4 linked regions of the Homo sapiens genome follow. The protein of the gene in region 4 purifies or fractionates together with the protein of the main gene of each other region. This does not show direct contact. Each region holds a gene or a part of one and is shown on either strand. Other genes may lie near its edges.

Region 1 (3,568 bases), on a different chromosome or scaffold from region 4:
TGCTGTAGAACAGAGATATCATTCACCCCATCCCATGCCAGAAAACAGAAGCCCAGAATTCCCGCTGCACACCCATGGTAGAACTGCAACCAGGACATGAGCCTCCTGACACCCCTAAAAGCCATGCAGCCTTCTGCCGTGAGTGGGGAAGGGGTCCAGGCATGGCTGAGGTTTGGGAGAAGGAGGTCCGCAACTGGGCACTGGGGGACCTGGCAGCCCAAGGCTACCTTCTGCACACAGACCCAGCCTTCTGCTCTGAGGGGCCCAGGCCCTAAGCTGCACGATGGCCACCACCCACACTTCCATACCCAGACCAGCTGCAGCGGCCTGGCCAGGATGATGGGCGCTCCTGCCCAACTGCAATTTCCCAGCTGCTGCAGAGTTAATCACCAGCCTCACTGGCAGTTGCTTCCGGCTTCTATGCAAAGGAAACTGCCAATTAGGTTATAATTAATTTCTTTCCTAGGGCAAGGCCTGGCTGAACAGGACTGGCCACCCAAGTGGCCTGTGGATGACCATGTAAGGGTCACTGGCCCCCTTGGCTGCAGGGCTGTAGAGTCTGCCCCAGCTGATTACATTGTTCACTGGCCCTGGCCTGGGGCAACGGGGCCAGGGCATCACCACTGGCTTTGACCCTGGTGCCTCTGGCCTGGGCAACTGTCCCCATGCACTCAGCAAGGCAGTGACTCAGATCATGTCCATGTGCAAATTTAAGTCAATCTGTCAGCTCATGTTCCTCAAGCTGAGATGGTCTTGCCCATTTTCGCCCTACCCCAGCCCCTTCTCATCCCTGTTCAACATTAACCAGTAGGAATCCACGGTGTGCTCCTCATGAGCAGGTCTGCTCCGGGCGCTTCATCTGCATCACCCACTGCATCAAAACAACTGTCAGAGGTAGGGACCATGAGGATTCCCATCTCACACAGGAGGAAAATGAGGCAGCACTAGCTTAGGTACCCTGCTGGAGGCCACACAGAGGCTAGGAATTAAGCTGCAGTCTGGCCTGGGCTTCTCTGTTCAGTGACAGGCATGCAGAGAAGCCGAGGCACCGTGAGCTACCACCCCTTCTGCATTGGGCTGCAGAGTAGAAGCTGGGCTCTCCCTGGAGAGAGGACACAAAAAAGGCTTGAGGGTCTGCTCTTAAGAGCAGTGGAGAGCAGAGGGAGAGAGCCAGGAGCCTCTGAGACAGTAGGTTTCAGCCCAGCACAGACCTGGGGCCAGACAAGCTGACAATCCTGATGCCCCAGGTCACAGCCAGGCAGCCCGATGCGGGGGCACCACCTGCATCTGGATGCTGTTATCCAGGTCCTGGGAGCAAAGACCTCAACATCAAGGGTGAAGAAGAATCCAAACCCAAGGCTGGGGATGCCATGCAGGGAAGGGGATGCCCAGGGAAGTGGTGCCAAGTCTTCATCTGACACTACCCCCATGTGTGACAACTCACGCCTCCCTCAGGGCCTCGATTTCTCCCTGTGTAAAATGAGAGGTTTGCACTGATGTGTAAGCTCCTCTCAGCCGAGGTCCTCATGCCCTTTGAGTCCACGTGATGTCTATGCAGGAGTATCCACAGAATGAGCTCCTGACCAGGGGCCGAGGGGCAGACGGTGGCCGAGATGGAAATCAGGACAGGCTCTGGCCTAGGTGGCCCCTGGGGGGTGAGGGACATGGGGCCAAAACAGGATTAAGACTGCAAGTGTCCTCCCAGGCCACTGACGATGAGGCAAGAAGACAAAGGCCTAGTCCAAAGGAGAGAGTTCAGCAGCAGAAAGGAGAGAGTTCAGCAGCAGGAAGGAGCAGAAACGCAGGGCAGAGCGGCCCAGCCCATGCCCCTGTGCTTCCCCGCTGTTTGCCAGGGCTGGGCACTTGGCTTCCCTGGCTCTGTCCCTAGCTGCGAATGGGGACAGGAACTCCTCCTTGGGAGCACAGAGTGCCTGCCTATGGATGCCAGTGTTCCACCCCCACCAAGCAGATTTGCAGGAGCCCACAGAGGCTGCCTGCCACCCTCGGTTCAGGGCCCCCCAGCTCCATGCTGGCCTCCAGAGCTGCCTAGGTGCATCCACCGCTGTCCTGAGAAAACTGCCCCAGGGCCTGGCAGCATGACATCACACCACGGCAATGATGATAATCAACTTACAGCGGATCCGATTATCAGCCTGGTTATTTTTAGAGTCAGGGTTCAGGATGAGCGAGAGAGGGCGGCCCTGGTTCCCCTGCTGCTGAGTCTCGTCTTGTCAGTGGGGTGGGGGTCTGCTGGCTCCTTGCACCTTCCCCTTCCTCCATCCTTCACAGGGCGGTTCCTGAGAGGCCCCTTCTTATGCACAAGCAGTGACACCATGGTTTCCAGATGTTGGTGCTCAACGTGGCCTCAGAGTCCAGGTCTTCCGAGAATGTCCTCAAGGTCCTCGAGGGCAGTGGTGATTCAATGCCCATGTGAGGAATCAGACGAATCCACACTCTCCTCACAAGGGACCTGGGGCTCAATCACTGACAGTGACGGCCCTGGATAAAGCTGCTTCTCTGCAGCTCTTGATGCAGATGCAACAGCAAAGTCAGCTGTATGGCAAGACAGCCATCTAGTTAGACAACAGGCAGAGGGCTCGAAGAGATGCTTCTCCAAAGAGACATGCAACTGGCCAGCATGCACAGGAAAAGATGCCCAGCACGCCATCACCGGGGAAAGGCAAACCAAAGCCACAACGAGCTAGCACTGTGCACTGGCTGCACGGCCAGAGTGAGACATGAACCAGAGAATAACAGAGAATAATGCGTGGTGGTGAGAATGTGGATAGATTGTAACCCTTGGGAATGTAACACAATTCAACCACTGTGGAAAACAGTTTGGCGGCTCCACAAAATATAAAACAGAATTACCTAGCGATTTCATGTCCAGGTATGTACCCAAAAGAACTGAAAGCACGAACTCAGGTATTTATAACAGGAATGTCCCTGGCAGCATTTTTCATAACTGCCAAAAGGTGGAAAGCACCCACGTGTCCATCCCCAGATGAATGGGTGACGGCACACTATTTACCCCTCACAGGAAGGGGCTGATGTGTGCCACAGCCTAGAGGAACCCTGAAGACCTTATGCTGAGTGAAGCCAGACAACAGTCCATGCAGATGAAATGTTCCAGGACAGGCCAAGCCGCAGAGACAGAACGCAGGCTGGGGGTTGCCCGGGGACAGGAAGCAGCTGTTTAATGGGTATGGGGTTTCCTTTTGGGGTGATGCAAATTTTTTGGAACTAAGGCAATGCCTGTTCAATGCTGTAAATGTGCTAAATGCCACCAAATGGTTCACTTATAAATGGTTAAACTTATGTTACACAAATTTCACAATTAAAAAAGAGTAAACCATAATTATTTGCTACCCTGTTTCCCCCTCTGTCCCCCTCAGCTGCTGGGCCCGCCAGGAGCCCCTGCTATGTGGACCAGGACAAGGGATGGAGAGCTGGTAGGCAGAAGTGTGTGCAGGTACACCCCTGCGTGCCCCCATCCCCGCGTCCTCTGTACTTGAAGCCTCCTGGGGTGAGAACGACCATGTGACAGGATCCCACGGAACACAGGGAA
Region 2 (3,568 bases), on a different chromosome or scaffold from region 4:
GAGAACAGTATTAAAAAGAGGAAACGGTCACTCAGCTGAGCTTCGTAAGTCATGACTCTGTCATAACTGGGCTGGCTTTGTGAGATTTTGCAATTACTTACCTCTGTGGATTTTATTTGTAAAATAAGAAGATTGGATTAGCTGATCTAAAGATGCTTAATTCTTTGAAGAACAAGACCTGTCCTGTGATGACAGAAGGCAAGGTGAGACTAGTGTGTAAGAAATGGAGGTAGAAGCTGGGCATAGTGGCTCACACCTGTAATCCTAGCACTTCGGGAGGCTGAGGCAGGAGGATAGCTTGCATCCAGGAATTCAAGACCAGCATGGGCCAGACCGCGTCTCTACCAAAAAAAAAAAAACACACAAATTAGCTGGCATGGTAGTGTGAGCCTATAGTGCCAGCTATTCAGGAGACTGAGGTGGGAGGATTGCTTGAGCCCAGGAGGCTGCAGTGAGCCAAGAGATCCACTGCTCTCCAGCCTGGGTTACAAAAGTGAGACACTGTCTCAAAAGAAAAAAAAAAAAAAAAGAAATGGAGGTAGGCTGATGTCAGCAAAATATCAGAAAGAACTTAATGAGTAGGCCGGGCCCAGTAGCTCACGCCTGACTCCTGATTGTATGAGCTTATGTTTTAAAATACATTTTCTAGCCAGGCACAGTGGCTCATGCCTGTAATCCAGCACTTTGGGAGGCTGAGGCGGGCGGATCACTTGAGGCCAAGAGTTCGAGACCAGCCTGGCCAACATGGCAAAACACTGTCTCTACTAAAAATACAAAATTTAGCTGGGTGTGGTGGCACACACCTGTAATCCCAACTACTTGGGATGCTGAAACAGGAGAATCGCTTGAGCTGTGAGGTGGAGGTTGCAGTGAGCCGGGATTGCCCACTGTACTCCAGCCTGGGTAGCAGAGCAAGACTCTGTCTCAAAAAAAAAGACTGGGCACAGTGGCTCACGCCTGTAATCCCAGCACTTTGGGAGGCCAAGGTGGGTCGATCACGAGGTCAGGAGATCGAGACCATCCTGGCTAACAGTGAAACCCCGTCTCTACTAAAAAAAAATACAAAAAATTCGCTGGGTGTGCTGGTGTGCGCCTGTAGTCTCAGCTACTCAGGAGGCTGAGGCAGGAGAATTGCTTGAACCTGGAAGGCAGAGGTTGCAGTGAGCCGAGGTCACGCTATCGCACTCCAGCCTGGGTGACGTGAGACTCTAGCTCAAAAAAAAAAAAAAAAAAAAAAACTTAATGAATGGAGTGCTATATCACTGGAGGTACTCAGAGGCAGCAGGACCATCTGCTGAGAGAGGCACTACAGCAGATTGTTACTCTGTTGGGAGGAGTTTATGGCCCTTTCTAAATCCATTTTAGGTAATTATATGGATGTGAATGTAGAATATAAATTGTATGTGATTATAGATATGATTGTATCTTTTGTGTTAAAGATGTAATTTTATCCTTTCAGAGTATATCTGACATTGTGTCTTTTATAGTGTAGGGTAGTCCATTTTAATGCTATTTTAGATCAGTTAATAAGCAAAGTAATGTTGTTTTTTTTTGTTTTTTTTTTTGAGAGTCTTGCTGTGTCGCCCAGGCTGGAGTGCGGTGGCATGATCTCGGCTCAGTGCAAGCTCCGTCTCCCAGGTTCATGCCATTCTCCTGCCTCAGCAGGAGCTGGGACTACAGGCGCCTGCCACCAAGCCCAGCTATTTTTTTTGTATTTTTTTAGTAGAGACAGGGTTTCACTGCATTAGCCAGGATGGTCTCCATCTCCTGACCTCGTGATCCACCCACCTCCCAAAGTGCTGGGATTACAGGTGTGAGCCACCACGCCCGGCCGTAATCTGTCTATTTAAATTGAATAGGCATTTGACATTTGTTTATGCCTTCATTCGTATTTCCTATTTTTTCTTCTATAGGGGGAGGAGTTTTGGCCCACACAATACTAGGAGTTGCATGGAATGAGATTACAGGGCAGATAAAGTTTCTGATTCTAGATCCACATTATACCGGTGCTGAAGACCTGCAAGTTATTTTGGAAAAGGTAAGTATCCATTTAACACAAATTGAGACAAAAGGCAAAGAAGCTAGAAATGAAGGATCACAAACTGGCTGGTAACAGAAAGACAATAAGCTGAGGGCAGAGATCTCCCTGTGTGGAGGCCTTCTGAGGCTGTTGTAAGTAGCCGTCTCTGTATAGGGAATGTGCAAGAACAAAGCACATTGCAAAAGACAAAATTTAGGTTTATAGAAACTTTCTCAGCTATTAAAATTAATAATAGGACACACACTCATAAATATATTCCTTTGGAGATTTTAGAGCTTTCATAAACAAATGTATCAAAGTTTATCAATGTCTTAAAATAGATGAGCAGAATATATAAACTTTTAAAATTTTAGAATTAACCAAAAGATAGCTAAGCAGTATGCTAGACATTATGGAGGCTTGACTAATTTTAATTCATTTACATATAACCTAATCTCATTCTATAAAGGGTTTGAAGTTGATACATATTTAAGAGTATTCTTACTTACAATAGCAGATAAAGGAGGTAAAAATTTGTTAATTCATAGGCAACTAATTCTCACATATGAAAACTCAGTACCAAGTCTTTAGGAGAAAGTATTGTAAAACATAATTAACTTGAATTTTAAGTAACATTTATATTCGCTGCCAAATACATTGAAATTGCAGAGAATACATAACCACCTTTTAAACTATAAACTAAAGATAAAATGTTTTAATATGTTAAAGAGTTTTAAGCCAGGCGTGGTGGCTCACACCTGTAATCCCAGCACTTTGGGAGGCTGAGGTGGGCAGATCACCTGAGATCAGGAATTCGAGACCAGCCTGGCCAACATGGTGAAACCCCATCTCTACTAAAAATGCAAAAATAAGCCAGGTGTGGTGGTGGGCGCCTATAATCTTGGCTATTTGGGAGGCTGAGGCAGGGGAATCACTTGAACCCGGGAGGCAGAGGTTGCAGTGAGCTGAGATGGCGCCATTGCACCCCAGCCTGGGCAACAGGAGTGAAATTCCAGCTCAAAAAAAAGTTTTTAATGTGTGTAGTCCAACTCTGTTATATCCTCAGTTTACTGAAGTCTTTTGTTTATGATAAGGGTATAAACACTAATAGGATAGAAATGTGTTGTTACAGTTTTAAGTGTTTTTTTTTCCTTTTCTCTTTCACAGCATTTGGAATTTGAAGTCTATAAAAGGTTTTTTGACTGGTGCATGTATCTTACTGAATATAGTAGCAATATTCTTGTTCTGTAGCAAGGTGTTCATTCCATTCAGTATTTATTAAAGTACCTAACAAGTGCCAGGCACTGTCCTAAGCACTAGTATTACACGAGGTTTTTCGGGAGCTAAAACCTTTAGGGTAGGACAGAGAAGGAGAGTGCAAAAAGGACTCTCGAGAAAAAAAAAATGGTATCTCAGGTGCTTCTACGAGGCTGGTGCTGTGGTGGCCCCTGCCTTGTAGAAACAGTGAAAGCCGCACTGCAGGTAGATCAGTGCGTCCAGAGCTAGGCGAAGAGGTGAGGCTGGAAGGACACACCAAGCTCAGTCAGA
Region 3 (3,568 bases), on a different chromosome or scaffold from region 4:
AACAACCAAAACTGTCTACAGTCATTGCCGAATGTGTCCTGGAAGGCAAAATTACCCCCAACAAGAACCACTGGTTTACAGCAAAGTAGGTAATTCGATGTGGAAAATGTTGAGTGTATGCCAAAGGAACATCTTAAGATGTAAATATTAACTAGAAATCAGTTATATGTGAGAGCAGACAGATATTAAATCTGTTTATCAACTAATAAGGCATCAATGTTGACTTTGATAATCCCTATTGTTTTGGAAGATAATTAAGTATTGACACCAAAATTATGTTATCTAGGATTTGGTGAACTGCTGGGCAACACAGTGAGACCTTATCACTACAAAAAAAAAATAAAAAAATAAAAAATTAGCAGGGCATGGTGGCATGCGCCTGTGGTCCCAGCTTCTCGGAAGGCTGAGGCCTTCCTTGAGCCTGGGAGGTTGAGCTTGCAATGAACCATGATTACACCATTGCACTCCAGCCTGAGCAATAGAGGGAGACCCTGTCTAATTGGGGGAGTCTTAGAATGCCATGAGAAAAAAAGAAAAGAAAAGAATAAACTAGCCCTAGTTCTTTATTTTTTTGAGATGACGTCTCACTCTGCTGTCCAGGCTGGAGAGCAGTGGCGCAATCTCGGCTCACCAAAACCTCCACCTCCCCGGTTCAAGCGATTCTCTTGCCTCAGCCTCCCAAGGAGCTGAACTAGCCCTAGTTCTAAAGAGTGACTGTCTAAACTGGCTTCAATTAGGTAAACAATAGATACCTACTATACACAAGGTGCAGTGTTGTGATACAGGGGATACTAAAAAAATACAACTCTTAATAAAGTTTCTGCCTCTTAAAATGAAAGTTAAGTACATAACGGTAACAAAGTAAAGTGTGGCTTAATGCTGTGATATAGGCACTTAGCAAACCAGGCCAATGTCTGTTTGTTTTATTAAGGACCATTCCCAGAAACTAACAAAAGGGTAACTGTTTTCCAGAATAGATGTCTATCTACATTTATAACTTTAATCCATTTCTTTTGTCTTCTACCTCATTAATTTTTTAACAGATGCAAAATCATTAAGTAGGGAGCCAGATCGTACTTAACATGCACCAAAAACATAGTTCTCAATCCCAGCTGTATGTTAGAATCAGTTACCTAGAGAACTTTAAAAAAATATTGATGCTCAGATCCCACTCCTAAACAATTAAATCAGAATCTCTATGGATGAGACATACACACAGGTATTTATTTTCTTATTTATATATTTAAAAAAATACAGAGTCTCACTATGTTGTCCAGGATAGTCTCAAACTCTTGGGCTCAAGTGATCCTCCTGCCTAGGTCTCCCAAAGTGCTGGGATTACAGGCATGAGCCAACCTCGCCTTGCCCACATAGGTATTTTTAAAAAGCTTCCCAAATGAATTCTAACACCAGTCAAGACTGGGAACCATCAATATAAGAATGAATATAAACATGCTGCTAGGAGCAACAAAATAATATGAAGGCAACAATTTGTTTCCAGCTGAAATCAGCATCTTAAATCATTCAACCTACCAAAATTTTAAAAAATCATTTTCATTTTTAAAACTCTGTAATTGAGAAATTAAAATAACACCTCCAAAAAAAAAAAAAAAAACACCTCCAGGATGCTTATGCCCATAACTCTTGTTCTGAAATTGGTATTATAATGTGTAATTATTTCATTTTACTCTATTAAAAAGACATGTGGGTTTACACCATTATTGGTATGTTTCAGAATTTAGTGTAGTAGTCCCCCCTTATCCATGGTTTCGCTTTCCATGGTTTCAGCTACTTGCAGTCAACCACAGTCCAAGAATATTAAATAAAAAATTCCAGAAATAAACAATTCATAAGTTTTAAATTGTGCACCACCTCACTTCGCCCAGTCTGTGACATGAATCATCCCTTTGTCCAGTGTATCCACACTGTAGATGCTACCTGCCTGTTAATCACTAAGTGGCCGTCTCAGTTACCAGACTGACTATAGCAGTATTACAGTGCTTGTGTTCAAGTAACCCTCATTTTACTTAATCATGGCTTCAAAGTGTAAAAGCAGAGATTCACGTATGTCAAAAAGAAGTTGTAAACTGCTTCCTTTAAGCAAAAAGGTGAAAGTTCTCAACCTAATAAGAAAAAAAACCAAAAACCTCATGCTGAGGTTGCTAAGATCTATGGTAAGATCTTTTATCTGCAAAATTATGAAGGAAAAAGAAATTTGTGCTAGTTTTGCTGTCACACCTCAAGTTGCACAAGTTATGGCCACAGGGCATAACTTTTATTACACTATATTGTTGTAATTATTCTATTTTATTATTAGTTATTGTTGTTAATCTCTTGTTACTAATTTATAAGTTAAACTTTATCATAAAAATGTATATATAGGGAAAACATAGTATATATAGGGTTCAGTACTATCTGTGGTTTCAGGCATTCATTGGAGGTCTTGAAACATATCCCCTGCAGATAAGAGGAAGACTGCTGCATTATTAAAAACTAAATTGTAGGCCCGGCGTGGTAGCTAACGCCTGTAATCCCAGCACTTTGGGAGGCCGAGGCAGGTGGATTGCCTGAGCTCAGGAGTTCGTGACCAGCCTGGGCAACACAGTGAAACCCCATCTCTACTAAAACACAAAAAATTAGCTGGGCGTGGCGGCATATGCCTGTGATCCCAGCTACTTGGGAGGCTGAGGCAGGAGAATTGCTTGAACCCATCAGACGGAGGGTGCAGTGAGCCGAGATCATGCCACTGCATCCAGCCTAGGTGACAGAGCAAGACTCCCTCTCAAAAACAAACAAACAAAAAACTAAATTGTAATGTGTTAGTCAAAAGAGACAAGGCTTAGTTAACCCTTATTCACTATACATGAGAACTGTTTTACTTGAATTAGTATGGTATTAGTCAGGTGTGCTGGCGTGTGCCTGCAGTCCTAGCTACTTGGGAGGCTGAGGCAGGAGGATCACTTGAGCCCAGGAAGCAGAGGTTACAGTGAGCCAAGGTCATGCCACTGCACTCCAGCCTGGGTGACAGAGCAAGACCTTGTCTCAGTTTAAAAAAAAAAAGGGCCAGGTATGGTGGCTCACGGCTATAATCCCAGCACTTTGGGAGGCTGAGGCGGGCAGATCACCTGAGGTCAGGAGTTCAAGACCAGCCTGGCCAACATGGCAAAACCCCATCTCTACTAAAATACAAAAATTAGCCGGGCATGGTGGCAGGTGCCTATAGTCCCAGCTACTCGGGAGGCTGAAGCAGAATTGCTTAAACCCAGGAGGCGGACATTTCAGTGAGCCGAGAACTCACCACTGCACTCCAGCCTAGAAGACAGAGCAAGACTCCGTCTCAAAAAAAAAAAAAAAAAAAAAATTAGTACGGCTATAAATGTAGAATTCCAAATAAGTTTAATATAATATTTCATCATTCAGTACTAATAAATTTAATATTATGGAACTGTTGCAGGCCTTACTTTCCATTTATTAATCATATGACTTTGAACAAATTCCGTAAATCACTCCCAATACCACCACCACTCTTCAGTTTACTTTCATCTGCAAAATGAAATAGGAACTATTT
Region 4 (3,568 bases):
TTCATAGGGCAAGAGGGAGCTTCCTAGAAGTGACTTTTTTGGCTGAGTAAAAGTGAACCAGGGCTGGGTGTGGCGGCTTATGCCCATCCAGTACTTGGGGAGGCCGAAGAAGGAGGATCGCTTGAGCTCGGGAGTTCGAGACCAGCAAGGGCAATATAGCGAAACCCCATCTCTACCAAAAACAAAACAAAAAGTGACCCAGGCCAACAAACGGGCACAGGAGTTCCAGGCAAGGGCAAAGCCCATTAAAGGAATAGAAAGGAGAGCGAATAGGAGGCGGCTCTTATTATCACCCGCATCTCACACATGAGGAATGTGCTGCTGAGAGAAGCCAGGTAACCTGTCTAAGACTTTACACAGCTTAGCCAGTAGGGAAGGGGCTAGAATTAATTCAACCCTGGGTCTGCCTACCAAAGGCTGGACTCTGTGCCACTGTGCTAGGAGACCCGCTTTAGCTCTGGCGTCAGACTACCTGGATTTAAATCCTAATTTTGCAGCTTGCTGGCTGAATAAACCTGCACATCTACTAACATGGAGATATCCAAGAGCACTGACTCCATGGGGTCACTATAAGAAGGAAACAAGGGTACATCAGGATTCAGTGCAGCTCTAGGCCTGAGCTCTCAGGCCCACCGTGTAAGTGTGCTAGCACCCCGCTTCCCAACACAGCATGTGCCAGGAAGGACAGCGCCAGCCCAGGCAACCGCCTCTTCAACAAAAGTCCGTAACCCGAATTTTGCTCCGTGTTCAGTATTACAAGGGCTTTGGGTAACTGAGTTTTGCTTTTTTCCATCTTTCTTTCTGCTACTGCTCAAAAGGTAAGCACTTAATGTATAAATAACCTCTAAGGCAGCTCATCAGTCTCAATTTATACAAATCTGTTCAACATAAAAACCAAATGGTAGGTGCTAACTCCATTTTCCTCTGAGAATTCTCTTTTAACTTCAGTCCACCCAGCACATGACCACCTTGGACTTCCAAGTCCAAAATGACATGCCTAAGGAGGTCAAGTGAAACGTTTTTGAATATGTAAAACAAAGGGTGGAGAATGGGTAGAGCAAGAAGCCCAGCGGCAGGAAACATCCTCACTGTTCACAGAGTAGGGAGGGCTGGTCATGCAGAGACGGTTATCAGAGTGACACAGCACAACATGTGGATGGACCTGGGCCTAGCTCGTTTCCACTGCCAAGAAAACCAGTAAAGGACATTCGAGTCATGATATAATTTGCCCAGACTGGAAGAAGAAGGGGCGGACATGAGCAAGTTAAATCATTGACTCTCAAGGAGGAAATCGCAAGTGGATAAGTAAAGACAGTGGTGTCAGTCTATCAACTTGGAAGGAACAACCAGCAAAGCTAAAAACAGAAAAACGAAAAAGAGAAAGGCTTAGAAGTGCTTGCCTCTTGGGAGAAGAACTGGGGTGAAGAGAGAATGAGGGGGTGGTGGCGGGGGAGGCTGGGGTGGGCAGTGATGGCTTTTCTTTACTATCTGATTTTATTTAACTATACAGTCAAATTACTTTTGATTAAAAATAAATATTAACGTTTAAAAAGGCTTTCAACGTTTAAAAAGCCTTTTCTGTATGCTGCCCTGCTGTTTCACGTTACCGTGCAGGCAAGCCCCTTCTGCTGCTGTACACATCTGGCTGAAGAGACTGCTCCCTTGATAAAACTTAAACATCTGCACCCAGTGTCTTGATTAGCTCACAAGACAGAAATAAACCTCCTAAGATGAGCTCTACATTTTTGGCCCACCTGCACCTCAGGAAAGACTGTCAAACCCAGAAGGGGAGAGAAGGAACTTCCTGTGGTCAGGAGTGGAGAGGATGTGAGGAGGGGTCTGTTCCGCAGCCCCACGTTCACCGAAGAAGCAGGGGCGGGGGCAGTGGATGCAAGCTGTGGAAAGCAGTCCTGGCAGAATGGCCCCCAAACTCCATCTCCATCAACCAACTTATCTGACTCAATCCGCTGAAACTTCCCCCAAGTGGATTTCAGTGGATGTCCCAATCTGCTAGGAAAATACCCTCAGGTTTGGCCCGGTCCCCAAGACAATGAGTTGGGCCCAGGTGAAGCTGCAAAGGGAAGGGGGCTGGGTCCGGCTGAAGTCTTGAAGAATCCTTCAGGAGAGAGGGGCTGGGCACTGGTGCCCCACTCCATGCCCAGTGCACAGCTGAATGCTGGTGTGGGCGCGCACGTGCACACGCGCACGCACACACACCCCACACCACACAGCAATGCTGGTGTGGGCGCACACACCCAACACACAGCAACGTTGGTGTTGGTGCGCACATGCATGCGCACACACACACACGCCACATCACACCACACCGCACAGCAATCCTTAGCAATGCCAGTAACCTGGTCCGCACTTACAGCACATGCATCTTGGACAGTCCCCAGAAGGCCCCATCTGTCAGTTTGCTGATGTTGTTTCGCTGAAGCTTCAGCACCTCCAAGCTGTTGAGCCCCTGGAAGGTGAGGCCCTCTATCAGCCGAATCCTGTTCCGATTGAGGTCCCTAAAGAGATGAAGCCAGCAGGGTCAGAGTGTCTTATGTGCATATCCCACCCACAACCATTCTGAAGCAGTCCTGGCTAAGTTTCCAAGCCAGAGGAGAAATCCCAGTGCAGGGATCCCTGGGAAGCCAGGATGTGTAGGGGAGCCCACCATGTGTCTCGGCTGCCATGCAGGCACTGATGCTGCCACCTGACCACACCTAGTGCAGGCAAGAGGGGTGAGTGAGGCCAGCTCTCCACAGCCAGCTCCGAGGCTGGCCCACAGCTGCACAGAAGAGAACGCGTGTGTGCTCACGTCTCCTCCCCCAGTAGCACCAGTGCCATTTGTGACTCTGCAGTGAGGACGTGGGTATGACTCAAGGGGTGAATGTCTTATGTGAGGTATCTCTGAGCTCAGCAACAGAAATCCACACCACATGCCTCAACCCAGGAAAAACCAAACCACTATGTATCAAATGGCAATAACACTTTCCACTGGGGGCATTTCACAGCATCTCCACTATGGAGAGAAGTTACTGCACATGGGGGCAGGGGGAGATGGGGTAGAGACACCCCACAAGTCATATACACTTGGCTTCTAGCCCCAGTATGACAAAGCCTCAGTTCACCAAAAGATGTCAGGAATCTGGGTGGGCCAGATCCATTAGCACCCCTGCGGGAAGGGGAGGCAGAGCAGCCAGAAAGCCCTTGGTTTTCCCCAAATATTTCTGCAGTGTCTCATGATGCTGCCCCACACAAACCTTCTCAGGAATCACTGAGACCTTCTCCACAGACTGAAAATGGCAAAGTCTAGGACTCCCCACCCAGGGGAGGTGAAACCCAGGTAGGATGAGAGCCAGGCACACCCCGTCGTGCCGCCAACCTGGCCCTCGACAATTATTTTGTTTTGTTGAAACAAAATTTCCAATACTGTCTTATTTTCCTGAAATACATTCTTCTGCTAAAAAGAGGGCACAGGAAAAAAAAAAATCAGGGAAAAAAAGTCCTTCGTCAGGCTCTGGTTAACAGAGCTTTACTTGAATCTAAAACTCTGCCTTCTAGAAGGGTACTCAGC

Evidence for each region.
Region 1: the proteins of LRIG1 (region 4) and RET purify together in Homo sapiens (co-immunoprecipitation; one study listed by IntAct). This does not show direct contact.
Region 2: the proteins of LRIG1 (region 4) and UFSP2 purify together in Homo sapiens (affinity purification with mass spectrometry; one large-scale study listed by BioGRID and IntAct). This does not show direct contact.
Region 3: the proteins of LRIG1 (region 4) and USP8 purify together in Homo sapiens (affinity purification with western blotting, with the first as the bait; one study listed by BioGRID). This does not show direct contact.

The regions. Positions count from the first base shown.
Region 1 is NC_000010.11:43,083,558-43,087,125, reverse strand, and holds part of RET (proto-oncogene tyrosine-protein kinase receptor Ret isoform a precursor), read right to left. Parts: intron 1-3,568. UniProt on the Homo sapiens protein: Receptor tyrosine-protein kinase involved in numerous cellular mechanisms including cell proliferation, neuronal navigation, cell migration, and cell differentiation in response to glia cell line-derived growth family factors (GDNF, NRTN, ARTN, PSPN and GDF15).
Region 2 is NC_000004.12:185,401,964-185,405,531, reverse strand, and holds part of UFSP2 (ufm1-specific protease 2), read left to right. Parts: intron 1-1,913; coding exon 1,914-2,038; intron 2,039-3,568. UniProt on the Homo sapiens protein: Thiol-dependent isopeptidase that specifically cleaves UFM1, a ubiquitin-like modifier protein, from conjugated proteins, such as CD274/PD-L1, CYB5R3, DDRGK1, MRE11, RPL26/uL24, TRIP4 and RPL26/uL24.
Region 3 is NC_000015.10:50,427,352-50,430,919, reverse strand, and holds part of USP8 (ubiquitin carboxyl-terminal hydrolase 8), read right to left. Parts: intron 1-3,568. UniProt on the Homo sapiens protein: Hydrolase that can remove conjugated ubiquitin from proteins and therefore plays an important regulatory role at the level of protein turnover by preventing degradation. Converts both 'Lys-48' an 'Lys-63'-linked ubiquitin chains.
Region 4 is NC_000003.12:66,410,499-66,414,066, forward strand, and holds part of LRIG1 (leucine-rich repeats and immunoglobulin-like domains protein 1 isoform 1 precursor), read right to left. Parts: intron 2,517-3,568; coding exon 2,373-2,516; intron 1-2,372. UniProt on the Homo sapiens protein: Acts as a feedback negative regulator of signaling by receptor tyrosine kinases, through a mechanism that involves enhancement of receptor ubiquitination and accelerated intracellular degradation.